Homo sapiens: one gene and its partners. The protein of the gene in region 2 binds, or shares a complex with, the protein of the main gene of each other region. Each region holds a gene or a part of one and is shown on either strand. Other genes may lie near its edges. A codon is read from its position in the direction of its gene.

Region 1 (7,000 bases), on a different chromosome or scaffold from region 2:
GGATAGTTTCATGGGTGGGTACAGACGTCAAAGCTCATTGAATTGTACCTTCCACACGCACCATGCATCCCACATCAGTTATATCTCAACACAGCTGCCCCAAAATGAAAAAAAGGCAAACTGATGAGAAAGAAACACGTAAGGTGGTCAACACGTACATCAGGGAAATGAGGAGTGCAGCCAGGACGGGACGCCTGCACACGCACAGAACGGCTAAAGGCAAAGCGTGTGGCCACGTGCCCGCAGGGGTCAACGCTGCTGCCTGGAAATGCGTCACTCAGGGCCACCCCGGAAGCAGGGTTTTTTGTTTTTTGTTTTTTTGCGTAGAGACACAGTCTTGCTCAGTCGCCCAGGCTGGAGTGCAGTGGTGCGATCTTGGCTCACTGCAACCTCCACCTCCCAGGTTCAAGCGATTTTCCTGTCTCAGCCTCCCGAGTAGCTGGAATGACAGGTGCCCGCCACCATACCTGGCTAATTTTTGTATTTTTAGTAGAGATGTGGTTTCATCATGTTGGCCAGGCTGGCCTCGAACTCCTGACCTCAGGTGATCTGCCTACCTCAGCCTCCCGAAGTGCTGGGATTAGTGGAGTGAGCCACCACTCCTGGGCCCTGGAAGCAGTTTTATAGCTTCTTACAAAACTAAACATGTGGCCACCAGATGAGGCAGAGCTCACCTCTGCGGTATTAATCACCTCAGGAAAATGCAAGCATGTCTGCGTAAATCAGTGCACAGACACACAGCAGCTTTACTCACAAGAAGCAAAAACCAAAGCAACCAGACGTCTATCAACCCTGGAACAGGGGAGAGATGGAGCACACACACAGCAGAAGCTACTCAGTGATAGAAAAGAAACTGCCCATACGGCCAGGGACACATAGTGAGCCCCACAGTATCCACACCCTGGCCAGCCACACGGGAGCCCCACGGTAACCACGCCTTGGCCAGCCACACAGCGAGCCCCACAGTATCCACACCCCGCCAGCCACACAGCGAGCCCCACGGTAACCACGCCTTCGCCAGCCACACAGCGAGCCCCACAGTATCCACACCACAGGACTTAATCAGTCCTCAACACACACACATAGCGAAACATCTTGCTGTACCCTGTATACACAAATATTACTTGTCCATTCAAAATAAAATTTAAAATAAAGATGCTGCCAGGAAGAAGTTAGAAACCACAGACAAAATGCTCCAAGAGTCCTCATGTGAAATTCTAAGAGAGGCAAAGCTACAGCGACCGGAAGCACATCTGCAGCTGGCCCGGGCCAGGGAGAAAAGAGGGGAATGATGAGGTGCAAAAGGAGGCACGTGGGACACCCGCGGCAGGTGACAAACGGCCGGTCCTGCCTATGAGGATGGATACCCAGGTGTGTGCTTTACCAAAATGGATCAAATTGTACACTTAAAATTGGTGAATCTTAGGGTGTGTAATTATATGACAATACAGCTGGCCAAACAAAAAACTATTCAATAAACTAAAAAAAATGACAGAAGGAAGTGTATGTAAAAAAGATGACCATAGATATTCATGAGAGAAAGAACTGAAATAATCTGTAACACTGACAGCTGCTTTACTGAAAGAGATATACGTTAGTGTGTAGCATGACGGATCAAGAAAGGAACCGGAAATAAATGATTCTGTCAAGAAAGTGTCTATGTATGATGCAGATACGATCAAGATTTTGTAAATCGTACAAGACAAGGAAAAGCTTTAGAGCAAGAAATTTCTAAGTTACGCAAAAAATTTTTAGAAAAAATGTAAATCATCAAAATAGTCTCCATAAATGAAAACCCTGAATTAGCCAACAACGTTTGAAGGAAATTAACAAAGAGAAAAGTGTGTTTTCCTGTGGGGGCAGCTGAGGGGGTGGAGTTTGGTGGAGGTGAAGGAGCTGATGACTCTGTCTCAAACGGCTTCAGAGAAAACACAGAGGAGTGACAATGATGAAAGGGAGGAAATGATGTATGAGATCAGCCCTGACTCACACAGACAGGAAGAACCGGGCCAGGAGAAGGCACACACGGACCTCGCTGCACGGCCACGGCTAAGATCCACGGGGGGACCCCCCTCATCAAACTCAAAGTCCCCTCAGACGTGAGTTCTCAAGCAGCCGCCGGCCAAAGTCCACCCGCCTGACAACACGCGTGTGGAGCTGTGACTCCAGGCCCTCATTCAGTCACTCACGCGACGGGGAGAACTCGAAACGGCAGTGACACCCCTACTCGTTCGTCCCCTGGGCCGGGGGCCCGGCTCACAGAAAACCGTCCCAAAGGCACACGATGGAGACGTGGACGGACATCTGCAGGTGGCGGCGAGCTGGGCGCCACCGAGACAGGCTCAGCAGCCTTGGCGGGGAAGCTGAAGTTTGCCTGCGGCCCCCACACACGCGGGACGCTCACAGGGTTCTGCCGCCACAGCGCAGGTGGATTAAGTCGCGACAGCGCACACCCTGCTGGCCTCTGCCCACAGTCACGGTGGGTGCTCGAGCACCATGCTCTCCGCCTGCAGGGCCGGGTCGGTGCGTGCAGGCACAGTGGGGCCTGTGGAGGTGTCTCTCGGACTCCCAGCGGTGCAGACGCTGCAAGCGACACAACTTCAGTCTCAGAGCTCTCCCCTGCCCCGCTGGGTCACACCCAGGTCACCCTGCTTCTCTGGGGCGTCGAAGACAACGACAAAACTTGCTTTTTACCACCAAACGTGACATCCAGCCAACGGACCAGGTTCTTTCAAGTCTTAAAGCCTCACTACCTTAGACGGCCACCAAGGCCAGTGCCGCTGTGCGTGGAAGCGAGGTGACACCGAGAACTGAGTCCTGGAAGGAAAATGACATGAAACGCGCACATGAGAACCAGGCGCCGAGGCGGGGAAGCACCGCGGAGGGGGGGTGGCCGCTGTGGGGGGCGGCACCACGGTGGGGGGAGGCGCCGTTGGGGAGAAGCACCGTGGGGATGAAGCACCGCGTGGGGAGGGGCGCTGTGGCGGGGAAGCACCGTGGGGACGGGCGCCCTGGCGGGGAAGCACCGCGGCGGGGGTAGGGGAGGGCGGGGCGGCGCCCTGGCGGGGAAGCACCGCGGCCGGGGAGGGGCATCGTGGCGGGGAAGCACTGAGGGGAATACATGGGTCCCATGCAGGAACCTCACTGGGCTGCGCGAGCGGCTTTGTAGGACCCGAAGCGGACGCAGCGCGTGAGCTGCAAAAGAGGTGTCTGACCCAGCCCGAGGCGCGCAGAGACCCTGTGGGTGGGGCCGGGCGCACTCCGCGAGGGTGAGTTCTCCACACAACGGAGGCTGTACTGAAAAGGATGAAGGTGTCCCAGCAGACGGAATGCCAGCAAAGAGACCTCCCAGTGAAGGAACTCTCAGAGATACCCCACAACTTCAAGAGCACCAAGGATAAAACGCGGAAGCTGAGCAAGGCGTGTTAAGTCGAGTGAGTCTGCCAGGGCACGGAGCAGGTGCTCACTCCACACGGGACAAGGAGATGGCACTGCTGTAACTACTTTTGGCAAGTTTTTACTGAGAGATGAAACAATTCTTAATGCTTCTGGTGTTTTAAGTTACAGCATACTAGGTAAATATTAGTTCTTTTCATTCACTACATGTTTGCAACCGACTGTAAGAAAGTTTCTAATATTTCAACAAAAATGATTATAGAATGATCCTAATTTTTACTGGAAGATGGTTTTGCATGGTTGTGACTTATCTGGTCCTTTCATGGCCCCACACTGCCGTACAAGACAGGGACACCTCTACAAATACGGAGTGACTTAGCAAAAACAAATATGCAAGTGTACAACAGCATGCTAATTTTTCTCTAAGAAATGCAAGAAGTATGTATGTTCATACTCATACACATATTTGTACATAATTGCTCATATTAAAAGCTAAAATAACAATAAGAGGATAAACCAAAGCTATGGAAACTATTACCTCTGGGGTAGAAACAGCACAGACAGGGACAGAACCTGGACTTACCTGAATGTGTCTAGTTTGTTAGTGCTCACTTTGTAACCATGGAGGTTTTTACATATTTATAAAACAAAACTTTTTAAAATACTTTAAAAACACAATCCCTAATAGAAAAAGGGCGGGGACACTTAATGTGTTCTTTCAGACCCGTATTGCCCTAAAACCAAAACCAGACAAAGGACTCACAAGAAAACTACCAAGCACTGTCTTCTCTGTGAATCCAGTTGCAAAATTATTGGAATCCAGCAACATATAAAAAAGATGAGACACAGCGACCATGCGGAATTTATCCCAGGAATGCAAGGTTGGTTTAACATCCCAAAACCAACTCATTTAATAGACTGTATTAATAAGTTAAAAAAACAAAACCCGGCCAGGTGCAGTGGCTCATGCCTGTAATCCCAGCACTTTGGGAGGCCGAGGCAGGCGGATCACTTGAAGTCAGGAGTTCAAGACCAGCCTGGCCAATATGGTGAAACCCCATGTCTACTAAAAATATAAAAATTAGCCAGGCATGGTGGTGCATGCCTATAGTCCCAGCTACTTGGGAGGCTGAGGCAGGAGAATCACTTGAACCCAGAAGGTGGAGGTTGCAGTGAGCCGAGATTACACCACTGCACTCCAGCCTGGGTGACAGAGCAAGACTTTGTCTCAAACAAGCAAACCCAAAAAACAAAAACCTGCTCACTCCCGAGGACCCCCTTCACAGCTGCAGAGCTGGAGAGGGCTGGGGGGCAGGGGTCTCACCGTGAGGGGCTCACATGTACCGTGCACCGAGGCTCTGGGGCTCTGACTTGGAGGGGTGGGAGCATCCACTGGCCAGCGACTCCACCTGGAGGGTAGGAGGCTGGAGATGCGGGCACAGGTCCCTGGAAACACAACCACCCACCAGGGGTCCAGACACGCATCTCTGGTGTAGGCCTTGCCTTGGTAACGGACAGACACTAAACTGAGTGTGCTCCATCTGTGGGCGTCCAGGCGGTCAGCCTGGAGAGCATGCAGCTGAGAAGGAAAGCAGGCGGCGAATGATGCACGCCGCGCCGCAGCACTCAGGGTGAGTCTAGAAATGGGCCCATGGGGCTGCTGCCAGGAGACGGGTCCACAGCTGCCCAGCCTGGGATGGCCGCTCCTCGGGCAGAAAGGGGCAAGGCCAGGAGGGTGCAGAACGGCCTCCGAGAGCCACGAGAGCTGGCGCCACTGGCCCCGGAGGGGAGAGAAGGGGAGGGTGGCACAGGGCGGGCCTGCGCTCTTCACAGCATCAGGATGAGAATGCAGACGGAATTCCCACTCGCATTTCAGATGCTTAAGAATTCACACAGCAGCAACCAGACAGCAAACCTCAGACCACAACTATAACCTCAGAGAAAACCTGGGCCGCTCCCGCACACGTGTGAAACGCACCCTCCTCGGCCGTGCCGCCTCACTCACGCTCGTGTGACACGCACCCACCACGGCCGCTCCGCCTCACCCTCACATGCCCGCAGTACCACCTCGGCTGCTCCACGTCCCACGCGTGACACGTACCTTGGCCACCAGGCCCATGTCATCCATGGTGGCCCTCTCGTGGGGGAACCGGGCGAAGGTGCTCTCGATCTTGCTGATGACGGCATCCACGTTGACGGAGTCCTGCGGGCGTCCTCTGGGGAAGTAGAAGGTCGGAATGCTTTGGCTCGTGGCCGGGGGCAGAGGCTCTTCTTTCCGTGTCTGAACCTGAAGAGTCGACAGACAGCGCTCAGTTAGAACCTGGGAGCATCGAACGCCTTCTTCACCCGGACAACACACGGGGCCTCTCTAGGGCCGACAGTGCTGAGGCCACCTGATCCCAGCCGGGAGAGGACACACTGCAATCCCTGCGGGGGACCACACACGTACTCCACTGCAGGGCCCACCTTCACCCAGGAGGCCACACCATGCTGCCATGGACCCCACTCTGGGTGGCGGCTCTGCGCCACTGAGCCCCCATCACACCGAGCAGGGCCCTGGGGACAAGGGCAGCTACGTGCCCCAGGCACCTGAGAGCCCAGCCAGGACCCACTCCCGATTCCCATGAGCCACACCACTGACCCCACCACACCTGGCAGGGACCTGGGGAAAAGGGCAGCCACGCACCCCAGACGCCTGAGAGCTCAGACGTGGAGAGGCACAGGTGCCGTCCACAGGCAACCCTGTCCCTGGAGCCCGGAAGACTCACATTCTGAGAGGCAGAGGCAGGGCAGGCAACCACACAGCCAGGAGAAGGGGTCGACCACCAGGTACTGCTGCGGACACGCCTCAGCCCCTCACCCGGTGCACAGCCCACGCCCACGGGCTCTTGGCCCCACTCAGCACCAGCACTCTCCTCACCCAGTATATCTGCAGGCCCCAGAACACTCACTCAAGAGTCTCCTGCTTGCATCTCTACACAACCTGCGAGGTGGACATTTGATCTCATCCCGTGATGTTAAAACACCATCTGAAACAGTTAACAGCATCAGCAACCGTACTGCGTCCTCCTCCATCAACTGCCCAAGGGACGGTGCTGCGTCCTCCCCCACCATCAACTACTGAAGGGACGGGGCTGCGTCCTCCTCCTCCTCCAACTACCCAGGGAACGGGGCTGTGTCCTTCCCCATCAACTACTCGGGACGAGGCTTCGTCCTCCCCCATCAACTACTCAGGGGACAGGGCTGTGTCCTCCTTGACCAACTACCTAGGGAATGGGGCTGCGTCCTCCTCCTCCTCCATCAACTACTCAGGGGACGGGGCTGTGTCCTCCTCAACCAACTGCCATGGAGGAGGGGTCCAGGGAGGAAGTCCGCATACCAGTGGACCACAGCTCAGGGCCTTTGCACCCACAATCCTGACTGCCTGGATCAATCCAGGACTGGGTCCAAGCTCCAGTGTCCACACAGAGAAAACAGCCCGCCCTGCTACTCCCACAGGACCCTCACCCCAGGTCACAAGGGTCCCACAGACAGCACCCCAACTGTCCCCACCCTGCTACTGCCACAGTATCCTCACCGCAGGTCACAAGGGTCCCACAGCGCC
Region 2 (7,919 bases):
ACATCTATTTTTACTATTTAAATATTTCCCCTTCAAATCAGGCATTTAGGTGGGTAGAAGGAAGGCTTTTACATTATCATTCCTTCTTATGATTGAAGAAATTATCAACTATTAACAAGTATCTTTTTTCTCAAAAAATACTATTATTATACACTAATGAAAAAAATTAGCCCTCAAATTTTCAAAATTACTCTTTAGAAGGCAATCACACCAAAAAGCACATATGTAGCTTTCACCCAGAGATGCCATTGGCACACAAATATTAACAGTGAAAGACAGCTTTTGTTTTACTAGAAAGACTTGTACAAAAAACATCAGTTCATGGATTCTACATACCCAAAAAACTGTCTTCAAATTAATTTAGTTTGGAAGTTTAATATCATCCTGAAAGTTGAAATACTTACTTACCAGTTATAAACAGTATGAAGGTTGTATAATGATATCCACCAAAACGGATCCATTCCACAGAAACTTTTATATAACACCTACTCTCAAATATTATTTCCATCTTTTTTGGCACTCAGAACTAAAATTTGCGTAAGCAGCGCAAGCAATGGAGATTTACCTCACTACATCTTAGTTTTACAAAGATGTGGAAAGCAATATTAGATGCATCAGCTTCACCCACCCCACTCTAGCATCCAGTATTATCTTATCTTCTACAACAGTTTCCAACACAAACCCTCTACTTCCATGCTCCATCTCCCACACCTTTTCATACCATGCTTTTCTTTCAAACTAGATTCATAGCTCCTCGACAATAAGCATACTTATTCTTCATTGCTTTTCATTTCCCTCAAAAGAGTATGCAATCTTAGATATTCAATAGATGTTCAATATTAAACACACTACTAATTTAAAACGGAATTGACTGTATAATCTCAGAACACATTTTAGTTTATAGACAGGAAAACAAGGACAAGTGAAGTGGCTGTCCCAAAGTCTGTCACAATTACTCAAGTAAGAGCAGAAGGACTCATGTCCAAATCTAACTCGCAGTCCAGTCTTCCAGTTACGTCATTACCTCCCTCCTTTCCACGTTTTCTTCAAAAGACTAGTCAACTGGCCAACTACTGACTTAAAAGTCTTTCATATAATGCACTGAATTCCAAAAATCGGTAAGATCATCATGTACAGTACCTAGAAATTAAGACCTGGCAATATACATTCATTTTTAAAGGCCAATTTTAAACCTTTAAAATAAATACCAACCTCATTTGACGTGAGAGGGTAAAGAAACAGGAGATTCAATACATCGCTACCATTAAAAGGCATCTCCAACAGATGATGTGCCACCTCATCCACTAGTAGTAGTTTTGTTCAGGCTTGGGAGAAACAAATCTAAATCTGACTTACTTAAATTCCAATTGTTCACAACATGGTTTCTAAAAAAGCCTGTCTTGGAAACATATACGTCAAACTCATGAACCTAATTTTCACATCAAACCAGAAACAAATCAGGATAATAGTTCTCCATTAATTCTTTTCACGGATACAAAATGCTAATATGATACTCCACTATTCTGTACTAAAGTGACGTGCTGCAAAGTTAATTTTGAAAAGGGAAGTTAAAATGTTCACAGCAGAGATCAGCATTTTGTGTACTTTAGAAAACTGAGTTACAAGAATTTAAAAATACAACACAAAGCTAATAGCTAAATTAACTACCTGTTTCCCCAACCCCCAGGGGAAAACAAAAGGGAATTAGCTAATATAAAGTTTAGTGTTACTAAGTGGACTACAACATTCTATTTTCAGTGTATGTGAGACATTATTTAAACACTAAGCACAATGTCTGGAATACAATCTCAGTCGACAGTTATTATCACTACTACTACTTGCAGCCACAAAATACTATCAAGTAATTTTTGCAACAAAGATACAAAATTTACCGCTCTTCCATTTTATGTTGTTCATTTTAAAAATAAACGGCAAAATGCCAAGTGTGTTAAGCTTAGAGAAGGCTTTGAGTCAGCATATAAATCATATTCAACCGACACTTGATTTCCAATCCAAAAGCTCCTTATGTAGTATGACTCACCAAATTCCCGATTTCTTCCAACTATGAAAAATAAGTTACACTCCTCCCTTATAGCTACCACCATGACCTTCGTAAAAATTAGGTTAAGAGAATAATTTAAAAATTCTTAAAGACACCCCTTACCTTGATTTCTGGAGAAGATCGCTTGGTGAGTTTAATACAAACCACCAAGGGGTACTAAAGCTGTGTGACCTTTAGGTATGTTCTGGGATACGGCCTAACAAGACTGCCTTTGGGGGATCCTCTGGGCAGCTCTGGACCTAACTAGGCCTGGGTACCAGCGGCAAGACTCTTACTCAGCCCACCGGAGAGGCCCAGGCTCCATTCCCAAGCCGCAGAATCCAAGCCAGCTCACCCTCAAAACCGTCCCTGACGATGACCCACAGGGTCTCCGCTCCCCCTGCCACCTCGTCTGGCGCCAAGGCCGGCTGACTCAAAAGCCCAGGAGTCGAGTGAACGGCGCCATTTTAGGCGGCGGCGGCAACCAATCCCTGCGCGGGAGGCAGGGGGCGCCGGGTCGTTAGGAAGCCGCCGCCGGCCAGGATGGGCGCCGGTCTCGGAGACTCGGGGGGCCCGGACCGGCGGCCTCCGCCATGTTGCACCCTCCTCACGGCCGCCTTTTCCTCGGCGGGCTCGGCCCCGCGGCGGCTGTCCGCAGCCGTACTACAGCTCACCTTCTCGCAGAGGCTCTTGACCTGGGACTCGGACAGCTGCTTGCACTCGTTCAGCTGCTCGATCCACTGGTCCAGCTCCTTGGTGAACACCTTCTCGTCCATGATGCCACCCGCCCCAGCCGGCTGCCGCTCCGCGCTGCTCCCGCGCCGCCGCCCGCACACGGGCCTACACGCACACGCCGCCGCCGGTTCCTCGTGTACTTCTGGCGGCTGTTGAGGCTGGCGCTGGCCCGCTGGCTCTCACCGCAGTACTCGGCCGTCGGCCGCTGCGCCTCCTCCTCCGCTCGCTGAGGCTCCAGAGCTCGGCTCTCTGTAATGGCGGCCGCCGGGCGTGGTGACGTCACGCCCGGCGTCAGGAGGCGGCGGGGAGCGGAGGGGAAAAGGGCCGGGGAGCAAGCTGCGCAACTGCAGAGCCCTCCCCGGGCGGCCGCACGACCGGAGTTGGGGCGCAAACTGGGGGTCAAAGCGCAGGCGCGACGTAGCCGGCTGGTAACTGAAGCGCCTTGACTTTTTGGGCGTGGCTCCCGGAGGGCGGGGTGGTGGGGGAAGGGAAGGATGGAGCTGGAGCATGCGCAGTGCGCACAGCGGCGAACCGGACTAATCCCTGAGCACTATTCCAGGAGAGGCGAGGGCTTGGGCCGCGCGCAGGCGCAGACCGGATGGAAGCCGGGGCCACTGGCAGCCTGTAACTGGTTCCCCTGGGAAGGCCGCTCTGGTGATGAACTCAGCTCCTCACCTGGGGCCTGGCAGTCCGATCACGGAAACGAGAATTGCGACCCCGTGGCTCATCTGGGGTGCTGCGGCTCTGTAATCGTGTGGGTTTCCGTCATCTTTGGGGGCAGGAACGGGCAGCGAGTGGCCGCTTGGATTAACCACCCCCACCTCTGGGCGCGGCTGGCACCTTGTAATTAGGTCACTCGTAGGTGGAGGAGCGTGTACCTACCGGGGGAGTGCTGCGCAGTGCACCTGACTTCCGCGGCACACACCCGTCCCCGGACCTAGGTGTCTCGTCGGGCGCGATGGCGGGGGCGAGGCTTGGGCTTTTCTTTGGGCCTCGGACCGCGGCTCGCTTCCACGCGCCCCGCTCCTCGCCGGTGGTTGCTTTCCTCCAAGTTTAATTCTCTCTGGGAATGAGAGACCCTCAACCCCTGCGCGCCCTGGCCTACTTTCAAGAGGGGAAGCCCAGAGAAGATGGATGCACCTGTCCTGACCGCGTCTCGGTGGCGTGAGAAGCAGCTGTGATACGTGCTTAAAAGAGAGAGCTCGTATACCCTAGGATTGGACCTCTGTCTGGTTATGAATCGCTTTGGAGTTTGCGAAACGTTTTCACATTCCATTGTCCCTGCTTTTACATAAATATCTGGTTCCATAGAGCGCCAGCTATATGCCAGATCCGGAGGGGTCATCCAGACGGACCAGGGACCATGCCCTGGAGCTTGTATTCTCCCAACAGTACTGGCTGAAGATGGTTTGGGATAGGCAGAAGAGAGATCATAATGCCCCCAGGATTTGAAAGATATAGAAGCTTTCCAAAGAACATTTAACCATAAAGGGCAAGGCAAGAGCTGAACCTGATCGCCTGTCTTCCAGGAACCCCACCCTCAGTATCAGGCAACCCTTCCACACCCAAGTGCTCAGCGATGCTTGGGAGGAGACTGCTCACTCTGCGGCTCTGAGGGCATCATCCCCACCAACAGGCTGAAGAAGGCACTGGAGGCCCCATCAGCCAATAGCAGGACTGAAAATCCTCCTTTATCCAAGACAACGTGTTTGGCAAGGCCGACTGGCTTGGCCTCCCTAGGCTGGAAATTGCAATTCTGCTTTCCCTTCACACCTCCCATTAGTGTGCACAAAAGAAAGTACCTTAAATCTACTCTTCTAGAAGTCTTATCACATACTTAATTTACCAGACTGGGAAAAAGACCCTTTAGCCCAAATTCTGTCCCTGTTTTGCAGTTAACATCCCCAAACAATAGAAGGGTAAGAGTTAAGACCAAGTGGAATGAATAAGGAAAAAATCATCACTTAGTGCCCGTGATTATAAAGCCATACCCAGTGTGCTGTCTAATCTTATTCTTTACCGTTGCCATGAACCTGTGTGAGAACTGTCTGATGGGGCAAGAAGCAGACAGGCACTCAGAAAAGAGAAGGGACTTGCCTAAGATAGTGGTCAGGATTTAAAACTGCACACTCCCAAGTACAAAGTCTCAGCCACAGTCATGCAGTTGACCTTCCAAGGTCTGACATATGGAACAGAATCAACATTATTTCTCTTTGCCTAGATTCTCTCTCTTTTTTTTTTTTTTTTTTTTTTTTTTTTGAGCCAGAGTCTCACTCTGTTGCACAGGCTGGAGTGCAGTGGTGCAATCTCGGTTCACTGCAAACTCTGCCTCCCAGGTTCAAGCAAATCTCCTGCCTCAGCCTCCCAAGTAGCTGGGATTACAGGCACCCGCCACCATGCCCGGGTAATTTTTATATTTTTAGTAGAGACGGATTTCGCCACGTTGGCCAGGCTGGTCTCAAACTCCTGACCTCAGGTGATCCGCCTGCTTCAGCCTCCCAAAGTGCTGGGATTACAGGTGTGAGCCACCGCACCCAGCCTGCCTAGATTCTCTTACCTGGAAAGGGTGTGGTGATGTTAGTTTGATAGATGATGAAGTATTGAACACCCACTGTGTGCTAAAATTATGAGTTTTTCCAAAGTACTGTGAGCCCCTTGTTGGTAGCATTAATGTAGGTGTTATTTATTTTCTCTTGATGCAGATTACTTGGCTCACCACCATCACAAAATGGAGGGAAGATATAATAATTATATGTACTTAAAACATCCTGCCAAATAATTAAATGCCATGACTTAACTTCTTAAGGAATGAATTCTAGGAAGCTCTTAGCATCAGACAGTGAAGTAAAGCATACATGATCATAAACAATACAGAAGTAAATTAATCAGGATATATTTTTCTTTAGAAGAAATTCAGATTGTGTATTCTGTAGAACAAAATATCTAATGGACATGAAAATGAAAATTCATTTTGACTTATCTGGTCTTGACTAATTTGACCTCACTGACTCAATTCTAGAGCTGAAGAATATTTGGAACAAAAAATTTAAAGCAAACCAAAAAGAATTGTCTTTTTAATTTATTGGGAAACACCAGAGAGTAAATAAAGCAAATATGCTTTGAGAAAGAATCTTTGCTCTGATGGCAAATTCAATATACAGCAAGTCTGAGTGTTGCCCATGATGTTTAAACATAGCTATAAATAAAAATCATCTGATGATGGGGGCGGGGTAGGAGGAGGATAACCTTGAGCAAATAGCTTTATAATAGGCACCCTACCCAAGATACAAAAATTGACATTAAACATGGAGTAGGAATGAGATATATCTTGTCAGCAATTCTCTTGGCATTAAGTTAGGTTTATTTTTTTGTTGTTGTTCCTTCCAGTTCCCTGACTTCTAAACTTACTGAGACAGAAAGTAGACCAGTGTCAGAAACGACTCTGGAGTCAGATGGAACTGGGTTTGAATTCTGGTTCTGCAACCGCCTAGATGTGTGAACTTTGGCAAGTTACCTAACTTTTCTGAGTCTTGGTTTTCTCATCTATAAAGTGGGAATAATTATAATAGAAAAATAATAAGGTTATTCTGAGAATTAAATGAAATTATAAATAAATAAAACCAGGCTGGGCGCAGTGGCTCACTTCTGTAATCCCAGCACTTTGGAAGGCTGAGGCAGGTGGATCACCTGAGGTCAGGAGTTCGAGACCAGCCTGGCCAACCTGGCAAACCACCATCTCTACTAAAACTACAAAAAAATTAGCCAGGTGTGGTGGTGTGTGCCTGTAATCCCAGTTACTCAGGAGACTGAGACAAGAGAATAGCTTGAACCCGGGAGGCAGAGGCTGCAGTGAGCCAAGATCGCGCCACTGCACTCCAGCCTGGGCAAAAGAGCAGGACTCTGTCTCAAAAATAAATAAATAAATAACACCAAAATAGTATTAATTAATGTATAATAAGTGCTAGATGTTGTTATTTATTATTATAATTTCTAAGTGGGCTTGGATTTTAAATACATAACCTCTAATGCCAGTTGGAGTCCTTCATATCTGCAGTGAAATACATAGTGGTGTTAGGAAACAGAAATAGAGGTATCAAAAATATGTAGGCCGGGCACAGTGGCCTGTAATCCCAGCACTTTGGGAGGCTGAGGCGGGTGGATTACTGAAGGTCAGGAGTTCGAGACTAGCCTGGCCAACATGGTGAAACCCCGTCTCTACTAAAAATACAAAAATTAGCCAGGCGTCCTGGTGGGTGCCTGTAATCCCAGCTACTCGGGAGGCTGAGGCAGGAGAATTGCTTGAACCTGGGAGGCAGAGGTTGCAGTGAGCTGAGATCACGTCACTGCACTTCAGCCTGGGTGACAGAGTGAGACTCTGTCTCAAAATAAATAAATAAATAAAATAAAAACATCATGTAAACACAAAGCCATTGGATGAAGTGGGGATGAAGGAGGAAATTCAAGGAGAGGTAGAGATGGAATAAACAGAACAACTCCTCTCTTGCCTTGCCATCCATTTAGACTTGTTATATAGAGAAAAAGTTACTTAGGACTAAATCCAAGAATTAATACAATCGGTCCCATGCTCCTGTCAGCTCAGAATCTTACATCTGAAAAGGGTGCCATAGTTGAAAAGGATAACATGCTCTTTGTACCAAGGCCTTTTATGCCCCAGAAGCCCCAAAATGAAGTCCTGAGCAGTCAAAATCTTAGTGGCTTTGGCCATGGAAAGCCTGCCATGCTCTGGCCAACGACGCCTGCCCAGCTACCAGACGATTTCTGCACTCAGCTTACACAATGATGCCTGCAGCTCATTGGTATCTGTCTCTGTTCTTTGTAGTTTTCAGAAAAATTAAGTTTATATTCCCCTTTCACCTGGAATTAGAATTTTATAAATGTAGCCAAAATTTTGTGGCCAGGAACTTTGCCACAGATATACTGCCTTTTCCTCCAGCTTCTACAGTCCGGCTAAAGAAAAAAGAGAGAAATGACCATGTCCCCTGGTGATGCCCCTGATGTCTGGATAGTATTCTCAGTTACAAAAGGAGACATTTTTCCATTACAGGAAAAAAAAACTCTGAAATGGAAGGCAAAGTTCATCACTCCAGAAGGCTGGGAAAACCTTAATACTGTCACCAACTCT
Region 3 (7,270 bases), on a different chromosome or scaffold from region 2:
AACTGAGGCTCACAGAGCTGTGACTTGCCAGGCAGAGCCAGATATGTATGACTCCAAAATCCAAAGTTTTCATCATTACATTAAGAACTTCTCGCCGGGCGCGGTGGCTCACGCCTGTAATCCCAGCACTCTGGGTGGCCAAGGCGGGTGAATTACTTGAGGCCAGGAGTTCGAGACCAGCCTGGCCCACACGGCGAAATCCCATCTCTACTAAAAATACAAAAAATTAGCCCGGCACAGTGGTGGGCGCCTCAGCAACTCGGGAGGCTGAGGCACGAGAATCGCATGAACTCAGGAGGCGGAGGTTGCAGTGAGCTGAGATTGCACCACTGCACCCTGGCCTGGGAGACAAAGTGAAACTCTGTCTCAAAAAAAAACTAAAAAGAAGAAGTTCTTTCCAGCTGTTCCCAAAAGTTCTGTTTCAAATTTCAAAAAAGGACCACAACCAGGGACCTGGCTGTTTCCAGCCACGGATAACCTCCCTGAGCACAGCTCTCTTTCAGGGCACAGGTTCTCTCTCCTCCCACTCCCCACCCCCACTCATCTTCAGGGACACATTCATCTCACTGATAACAGTGGTTGCCTTATATCTCCTATCTCCTGATGTCCTTACCAGAACTTTTTCTTTTTTGAGATGGAGTCTAGCTCTCTCGCCCAGGCTGGGGTGCAGTGGCTGGAGTGCAGTGGAGCAATCTCGGCTCACTGCAACCTCCGCCTCCTGGGTTCAAGTGATTCTCCTGCCTCAGCCTCCCGAGTAGCTGCGATTACAGACGTGTGCCACCACACCCAGCTAATTTTTGTATTTTGAATACAGACGGGGTTTTGCCATGTTGGCCATGGCTGGTCTCGAACTCCTGACCTCAAGTGATCCGCCTGTGTCGGCCTCCCAAAGTGCTGGGATTACAGGTGTGAGCCACTGTGCCCGGAGTCATCACCAGAACTTCTAAGGCTAGCTTGTTCAACCCACAGCCCAGGACAGCTTTGAATGTAGCCGGACACAAATTTGTAAACTTTCTTAAAACATAGGCCAGGCACGGTGGCTCATGCCTGTAATCCCAGCACTTTGGAAGGCCGAGGCAGGAGGATCACGAGGTCAGGAGTTCGAGACCAGCCTGGCCAATATGGTGAAACCCTGTCCCTATTAAAAATACAAAAATTAGCCAGGCATGGTGGCGCACCTGTAGTCCCAGCTACTCAGGAGGCTGAGGCAGGAGAATCGCTTGAACCCGGGAGGCAGAGGGTGCAGTCAGCCGAGACCATGCCACTGCACTTCAGCCTGGGGGACAGAGTGAGACACTGTCTCAAAAAAAAGAAACACAAAACCATTATGAGATTTTTTTTTTTGCGACTTTTTTTTTAGCTCATCAGCCATCGTTAGTGTTAGTGTATTTTATGTGTGACCCAAGACAATTCTGCTTCCAATGTGGCTTAGAGAAGCCAAAAGAGTGGACACCCCGGTTTTTTTTTTGGGGGGTGACGGAGTTTCACTCTTGTTGTCCAGGCTGGAGTGCAATGCCGCGATCTCAGCTCACCGCAACCTCTGCTTCCCAGGTTCAAGCGATTCTCCTGCCTCATCCTCCCTAGTAGTTGGGATTACGGGCGTGTGTCACCACGCCCGGCTAATTTTGTATTTTTAGAAGAGACGGAGTTTCTCCATGTTGGTCAGGCTGGTCTCGAACTCCCGACCTCAGGTGATCAGCCCGCCTCGGCCTCCCAAAGTGCTGGGATTACGGGCATGAGCCACCGCGCCTGGCCTGGACATCCTTGTTCTAAGGGCACACACCCAGAGGTTTTGTACAAAATAAATGTCTGGTTTTGAATGTCCTAAGAAACGGAACCCAGCTCTTTGTTCACCTCTTTTGTGGGGCATGGAGGGGATGCCTTTTCTGATTTTCAACATTTCTCCCTCCTGAGACCTTCCCAGGGACCCCAACATTGGAGACAGGATAGCAAGAATATCAAATGCTTTCAAAACATTAGCTGTGTTTGGTCGGCCAACCTATTTGCCTCTGTCGGGAATGTAAAAGTTATCTATGGCCAGTCCTTCTTAGTTCAAGGTAGGTCGGCAAACAGCCTTCTCCTTCTGCACAAAAAGGGTCTCTAAGATCCTTCCGTAGCACCTCCATCCCAGTTATTTAAGATGAACTAAAAAGAGGCTACAAGGTAAATAAGAGTTACCGAAGGAGATGCCGGAGAGACTAACCTCCTTGCACAACCAGCCTTTTAAAATTAGGGATTTAGACACCACGGGCAGTTTCCCTCAATAAATTCTCAGGCACTGGAACCAGAGAGTAGGAGGATGAGGGGTGAGCAGGACGCGGAGGCCGAAACTGGAGGCGAGGCGGGCGCAGGCCCACGGAGCACCACCCCATCCCCTAAGCAGCGACTAATAAAGACGGCAGCCTCCGGAATCACTTTCGCCCCCCTCCCTGGCAGCTTCCCCACCGAGTCAGCAGCTTACTTAAGCACGCGCTGCCCAGAGATGCAAAAGGCCCCCTTATGACCACGGCGCTGCCCACCCAGCATTCGGGCAGCCTGGACTCCCACAAAACCCAGAGTTGCGCCCCAATCACCACCCCTTTGCAGCCCCTGGTTCCCTCCCCAGCGGCGCCCCACCACCCACCTCTCCCCTAAGGCCATTCAACTCAGTCCCTCCTCGGGGCCCCTCAGCTTTTGCCCCTCCAGTTCCTCCGTGTCATGACTCTCGCCCTCCTGAGCCTCCCACACCTGGCACCGCCCCCACCCTACCCGACCCCGGCCCGGCCTGGCCCCGCCGGCCTTACCTGGCGGCGGCTGCCGCTCGCCCTCAGCCATCTTGCTCCGGCCAGGAGCCGACCCGGATGCTTGCAGTCCCCTCTCGCCTTTCACTCTTGCACCCACCCTTCCTCTCCCCGGCTCCACCAAAGGCTCCGAGCTTCCTGAAGACAAGTGAGCGCCGGCCGGCTATAACCGAAAACCGAGAGTTAAAGTCACCACAGCGAAGACGGCCGCCATGTCGGTGCGGGGCGCTCAGGGAGCAAGCCTATTAACGGCCGGCGCGCGGCGGACGCGCGGAACCGGGCGACGGCCATGTCAGTGCGGGGCGCGCGGGGCGCATGCGCGCCAACGGCCGCCAAGCGCTAGGACCGCTCACGGCCGCCCGAACGTCGGGCGCCGCGACTGCCACGATTGTGCGGGGCGTCAAGTTTGGGTTGTGCTCAGCCATGTTTTTCCGGGACAGTCTCCTGTCCCGGAGTACCACCTGTCATCTTTGTGGGTGGTACTGACCCTAACCCAAGGAATATTAGAGGACATTCCCCGGTCAACATGGTTGTGTTTTCCTATCACTCTAAGAGTTAGGCTCAAGGACACCAGACGGAGTTGGAAAGGTGCACACCACTACCTCCAACAGCTTAGAAGACATGTGGGGACAGGGGAGAGACAGCTGGACGGTGACCTCCTCCTTCCTCCTCCACAGGTCTCAATGACTCGCCCTCGGCCCTGCCCCTCTGTCCCCGCCCGCCGTGGTCCCGCCCCCGACTCGCAGCCAGCCTACTGCGACCCGCTACCGGGCGACGCCCCGCCCCTCCGTCCCCGCCCCTCCTGTCCCTCCTCAAGGAGACTCCGCCCCATCGATGCCCCGTCCCCGCCCCACAGCCAACCTCCCGGGCACCGTTGCCCGCCCGGGGCCCGCTACCGGCCCAGGCCCCGCCTCGCGAGTCCTCCTCCCCGGGTGCCTTCCCGCAGCCCGCTCGGCCCAGAGGGTGGGCGCGGGGCTGCCTCTACCGGCTGGCGGCTGTAACTCAGCGACCTTGGCCCGAAGGCTCTAGCAAGGACCCACCGACCCCAGCCGCGGCGGCGGCGGCGCGGACTTTGCCCGGTGTGTGGGGCGGAGCGGACTGCGTGTCCGCGGACGGGCAGCGAAGATGTTAGCCTTCGCTGCCAGGACCGTGGTGAGTGCGGCGGATCCCGGGCCTGAGGGCCCTGGACGGCCTGGGCGGGCCGTGCGGTTGCGTCCGGGAACGGAGACCGCGTCCTGCGGCCGCTGTTCGACCCGGCCTCCAGCTGATGGGGTGGGGTCAGGCGGGCGTCCCAGGTTTGGCAGAGCAGGAGATTGGGGCGCAAGGTCAGAAGCGGGATTAAACCCACGTCCTGGAGCATTCAGTTCCAACGACCCAGGAAAGACAAGGGGGACCCCGGCTTCAGTTAGCACCCCCACCCTTAGACCCAGAGACAGGCCGGTAGGGGAGAGAGACCAGGAGCATCCAGACCCTAGCTCACTCTCCCAGTTATTCTCCGATTGACACACCCGTCGCACGCTTAGGCCAGAGCCACTCCTCCGACCCTGTCCAGTTGGTCACACTCCTTTGGTTTATCAGACGGTCCCTGGGGAATTGTGTGTGGCCAGAGAAACACGCGGAGGCATCAAGCTAGAAAGGCCTCAGAACTGGCAGGTGGCAGCCCCATGGTCTCCCTCCCCTCCAGCCCCCTTCCCCACCCTGGCTGTATCCTTCCCTCCAGCCCCCTTCCCCACCCTGGCTATATCCTCCCCTCTAGCCCCCTTCCCCACCCTGGCTATATCTACCCCTCAGTCCTCCCCGGTGAGCAGCCCGGATGCTAGCCTAATTTCAGTCCCTTCCGTCCCTGATCCAAGCATATGTTGCTGGTGTCTCACTCTGTCTCAGACACACACTACGGGGCCAGAGGGCGGAGGGTGCATCCAGGCTCAGGCCTAGAGGCTCTTTTAGGTGTTGCAACACCCTGAGCCTCCACCGCACCCTTGTCACTGTCTCCCAAGCTGCATCCATCCCACAAACAGCCTCTAGATCATCCTCCAGGACCATCCGACTGGACTGGTTACCTTCCTGCAGGGAAACTGAGGCAAGGAGGGACTTGCCCAGAGTCCCCTGGACCTGCTCATTCAAATCCAGCCCAATCCCAGTGTCCTTTGGTTTATTTTTCATACCAAAAGTCCTCCGCTCTTGGACCCTAGCTGAATGAGCCACAGCTCAGGAAAAAATGAGTGTTCGTAGAGGGATGGCTCAGATGGGTCCCAGGAGTCCTGGAGAGAAACAGGAAATAGGCAGGGCTTCTGGCTGTCCCATCCACTGATGGCCTTTTCCTGGTGTCTGCTCCCTTGCACCAACCCTAATTTCAGGACCGATCCCAGGGCTGTGGTGTAACCTCAGCGGCCAGGCAGTCTCTGTCCTCCAGCCAAGTTTTCCCTCATCAAAACGATCTTCGCAGATTCTGACAGGTGGATTTTTTATTACCTTTTGTCCTGACTCCCTGGCACTGAGCCCATGCAGAGAAGAAAGGAAAGAACTTTCCAGGTTCCCTTCTACTGGAATGCCCCCCCACTAGCCCTCTCACCTGCTCCCCATTCCTCTACTTCTGGGAGCTCGGGAGGGTGGAGCAGCTTCTAGAGTCCAGGAGCTTCCCCTGCCACTGCCACAACCCCCGATTCCACCACAGCCATCGCCACTGCCACCTGCCTCCCGCTGAATCTTGGCTCTTGTCTTCTCTTTCCAGCCCAGGCAAGTGGCTGCCTCTGGCTAGGTTCTGCTCACTCACTTTGTAGCACAGTTAGGCTTAGAGATCCAGCCAAGGCAGACAGACAGGGCCCAGAACCTCAGTCCTGCCATGGAGGAGGACGGGCAGCAGAGAGAGAAGGTATGGAACAGAGCTCCTGCCACTCGCCTGCCCACTGCAAGAGCAGCCTCGGGCCCTCCTGTCTCTGCCCACTCCAGGGCCTCCTGGACTTTCTCTTTCTCTCTCTGCCGCCTCTCACCCTCCATGCCAGGCCACCCGGCTCTCTCGCCACAGCACTGCCCTCACCCCACCCCTGCCCCATCTCAAAGGCAGGAGGAAGCCCAAGGCCCCTCACCCGAAGGTGCTGCCATTGTCTGGCTCTCTGTGATTCTCTCTTCTTCCCTTCTGTTTCTCAACCTGGAAAGGGTGGGAGAAAAGGACGTGGGGACCTCCAAGAGGGACAGTCACCACTCTGCTGGCTGGCTCCTCTTCCAGGGTGAGAAAGGAGGGGCCTGTGCAACCCAACAGGTGGGCGGTCCCCCTCACCTCTGCCACCCCAAAGGTGCCGTTCATCCTGACTTGGTTCCCCTGAGCCTTGCTAAGAACCATGGCCACACCCCACCCTCCCCCATCCCTACCTGCATCTCCAGGCCCCAGAGAGGCGGGGACACCTAGAGCTCTAGGGCTGGGAGGCCAGGGCCAGCCCCACCCAAGAGGCCGTCTCTGCCCCCAGGGATGGGCACTTAAGTGCCCAGGACTACAGCTTTGGGGCTGCCAGGGCTCCAGAGCCGGGGAGGGAATGAACAGGATGTTCTGCTACCTGCAGGTGAAGCCTCTGGGCTTCCTGAAGCCCTTCTCCTTGATGAAGGCTTCCAGCCGCTTCAAGGCACACCAGGATGCACTGCCACGGCTGCCCGTGCCCCCTCTCCAGCAGTCCCTGGACCACTACCTGAAGGCGCTGCAGCCCATCGTGAGTGAGGAGGAGTGGGCCCACACCAAGCAGCTGGTGGATGAGTTTCAGGCCTCAGGAGGTGTAGGGGAGCGCCTGCAGAAGGGGCTGGAGCGTCGGGCCAGGAAGACGGAGAACTGGGTGAGTGAGGGCATCCTCACTGTGACCTGCTGCTGGCTGCACATGCACAGTTCTCCAGTGCCCACTGCTCTGGCACGGCCGTTCGTTTGCTGCCCAGAGTTTCGTGAGCACATACTCTGTGTCTGGCACTTGGCAGGGTGCTGGGTGATCAAGAAGGACACAGTCACCAGCTCCTTGGAGCTAACATTCAAGTAGGGAGGAGAGAAAGGTAATGAACAGGATACAGGTTGTGGACAAGGTTTCATGTTCCAGGACAGAGGCAGGAGTGGGGTGCACGGCAGGTACAACCAGATAGAAGATGCCCTTGTGCTTGGTGGGACAGCCTCAGGCAGGGGATATGTGTCACTCAGTGACCGATCGCCCAGGTTCTGTATCTGATCTATGACACAGGTGTACCCAGTTTGGCAAATATGTCTACACCAATGTTTGGTGTGCTTTTCTATTTGCATCTCATACTTCAATACACAGATTTAAAAAGTGGCAGCTGGATGCAGTGACTCACACCTATAATCCCAGCACTTTGGGAGTCCAAGGCGGGCAGATCACAAGGTCAGGAGTTCGGGACCAGCCTGGCCAACATGATGAAACCCTGTCTCTACTAAAAATACAAAAATTAGCCAGGCGTAGTGGCACGCACCTGTAATCCCAGATACTGGGGAGGCTGAGGCA

Evidence for each region.
Region 1: the proteins of PPP2CA (region 2) and PPP2R3B are in contact, whole or in part, in a crystal structure (PDB 4I5L), measured with the Homo sapiens proteins. Residues at the interface, in NP_002706.1 of Homo sapiens: Cys20 (codon at 2,760), His63, Tyr91, Tyr92, Arg135, Lys136, Tyr267, Arg268, Arg294, Arg295, Gly296; in NP_037371.2 of Homo sapiens: Met410, Leu432, Asp436, Cys439, Gln440, Met441, Leu442, Asp443, Leu444, Lys446, Glu450, Gly451, Lys462, Leu463.
Region 3: the proteins of PPP2CA (region 2) and PTPA are in contact, whole or in part, in a crystal structure (PDB 4LAC), measured with the Homo sapiens proteins. Residues at the interface, in NP_002706.1 of Homo sapiens: Arg89, Gly90, Tyr91, Gln122, Gln125, Val126, Tyr127, Gly128, Asp131, Glu132, Arg135, His191, Asp205, Arg206, Pro213, Arg214, Gly215, Gln242, Leu243, Val244, Met245, Asn249, Asn264, Cys266, Tyr267, Arg268, Cys269; in NP_821068.1 of Homo sapiens: His31, Thr32, Val33, Ser133, Arg134, Phe135, Lys138, Arg141, Asn180, Thr182, Arg183, Arg235, Glu237, Pro238, Gly240, Ser241, Gln242, Gly243, Val244, Trp245, Asp248, Asp249, Phe250, Phe294, Ile295, Met298, Lys299, Thr300, Ala304, Glu305.

The regions. Positions count from the first base shown.
Region 1 is NC_000023.11:355,908-362,907, forward strand, and holds part of PPP2R3B (serine/threonine-protein phosphatase 2A regulatory subunit B'' subunit beta), read right to left. Parts: intron 6,426-7,000; exon of another isoform or gene 6,348-6,425; intron 5,684-6,347; coding exon 5,498-5,683; intron 1-5,497. UniProt on the Homo sapiens protein: The B regulatory subunit might modulate substrate selectivity and catalytic activity, and might also direct the localization of the catalytic enzyme to a particular subcellular compartment.
Region 2 is NC_000005.10:134,223,045-134,230,963, forward strand, and holds the start of PPP2CA (serine/threonine-protein phosphatase 2A catalytic subunit alpha isoform), read right to left. Parts: upstream 3,030-7,919; 5' UTR 2,818-3,029; coding exon 2,716-2,817; exon of another isoform or gene 2,713-2,715; intron 2,511-2,712; exon of another isoform or gene 2,165-2,510; intron 1-2,164. UniProt on the Homo sapiens protein: Catalytic subunit of protein phosphatase 2A (PP2A), a serine/threonine phosphatase involved in the regulation of a wide variety of enzymes, signal transduction pathways, and cellular events.
Region 3 is NC_000009.12:129,107,145-129,114,414, reverse strand, and holds the start of PTPA (serine/threonine-protein phosphatase 2A activator), read right to left. Parts: upstream 3,001-7,270; 5' UTR 2,944-3,000; coding exon of another isoform or gene 2,815-2,943; coding exon 2,784-2,814; intron 2,728-2,783; exon of another isoform or gene 2,624-2,727; intron 1-2,623. Other genes in the region: CRAT (carnitine O-acetyltransferase), read left to right, coding at 5,283-5,312, 6,338-6,601. UniProt on the Homo sapiens protein: PPIases accelerate the folding of proteins. It catalyzes the cis-trans isomerization of proline imidic peptide bonds in oligopeptides. Acts as a regulatory subunit for serine/threonine-protein phosphatase 2A (PP2A).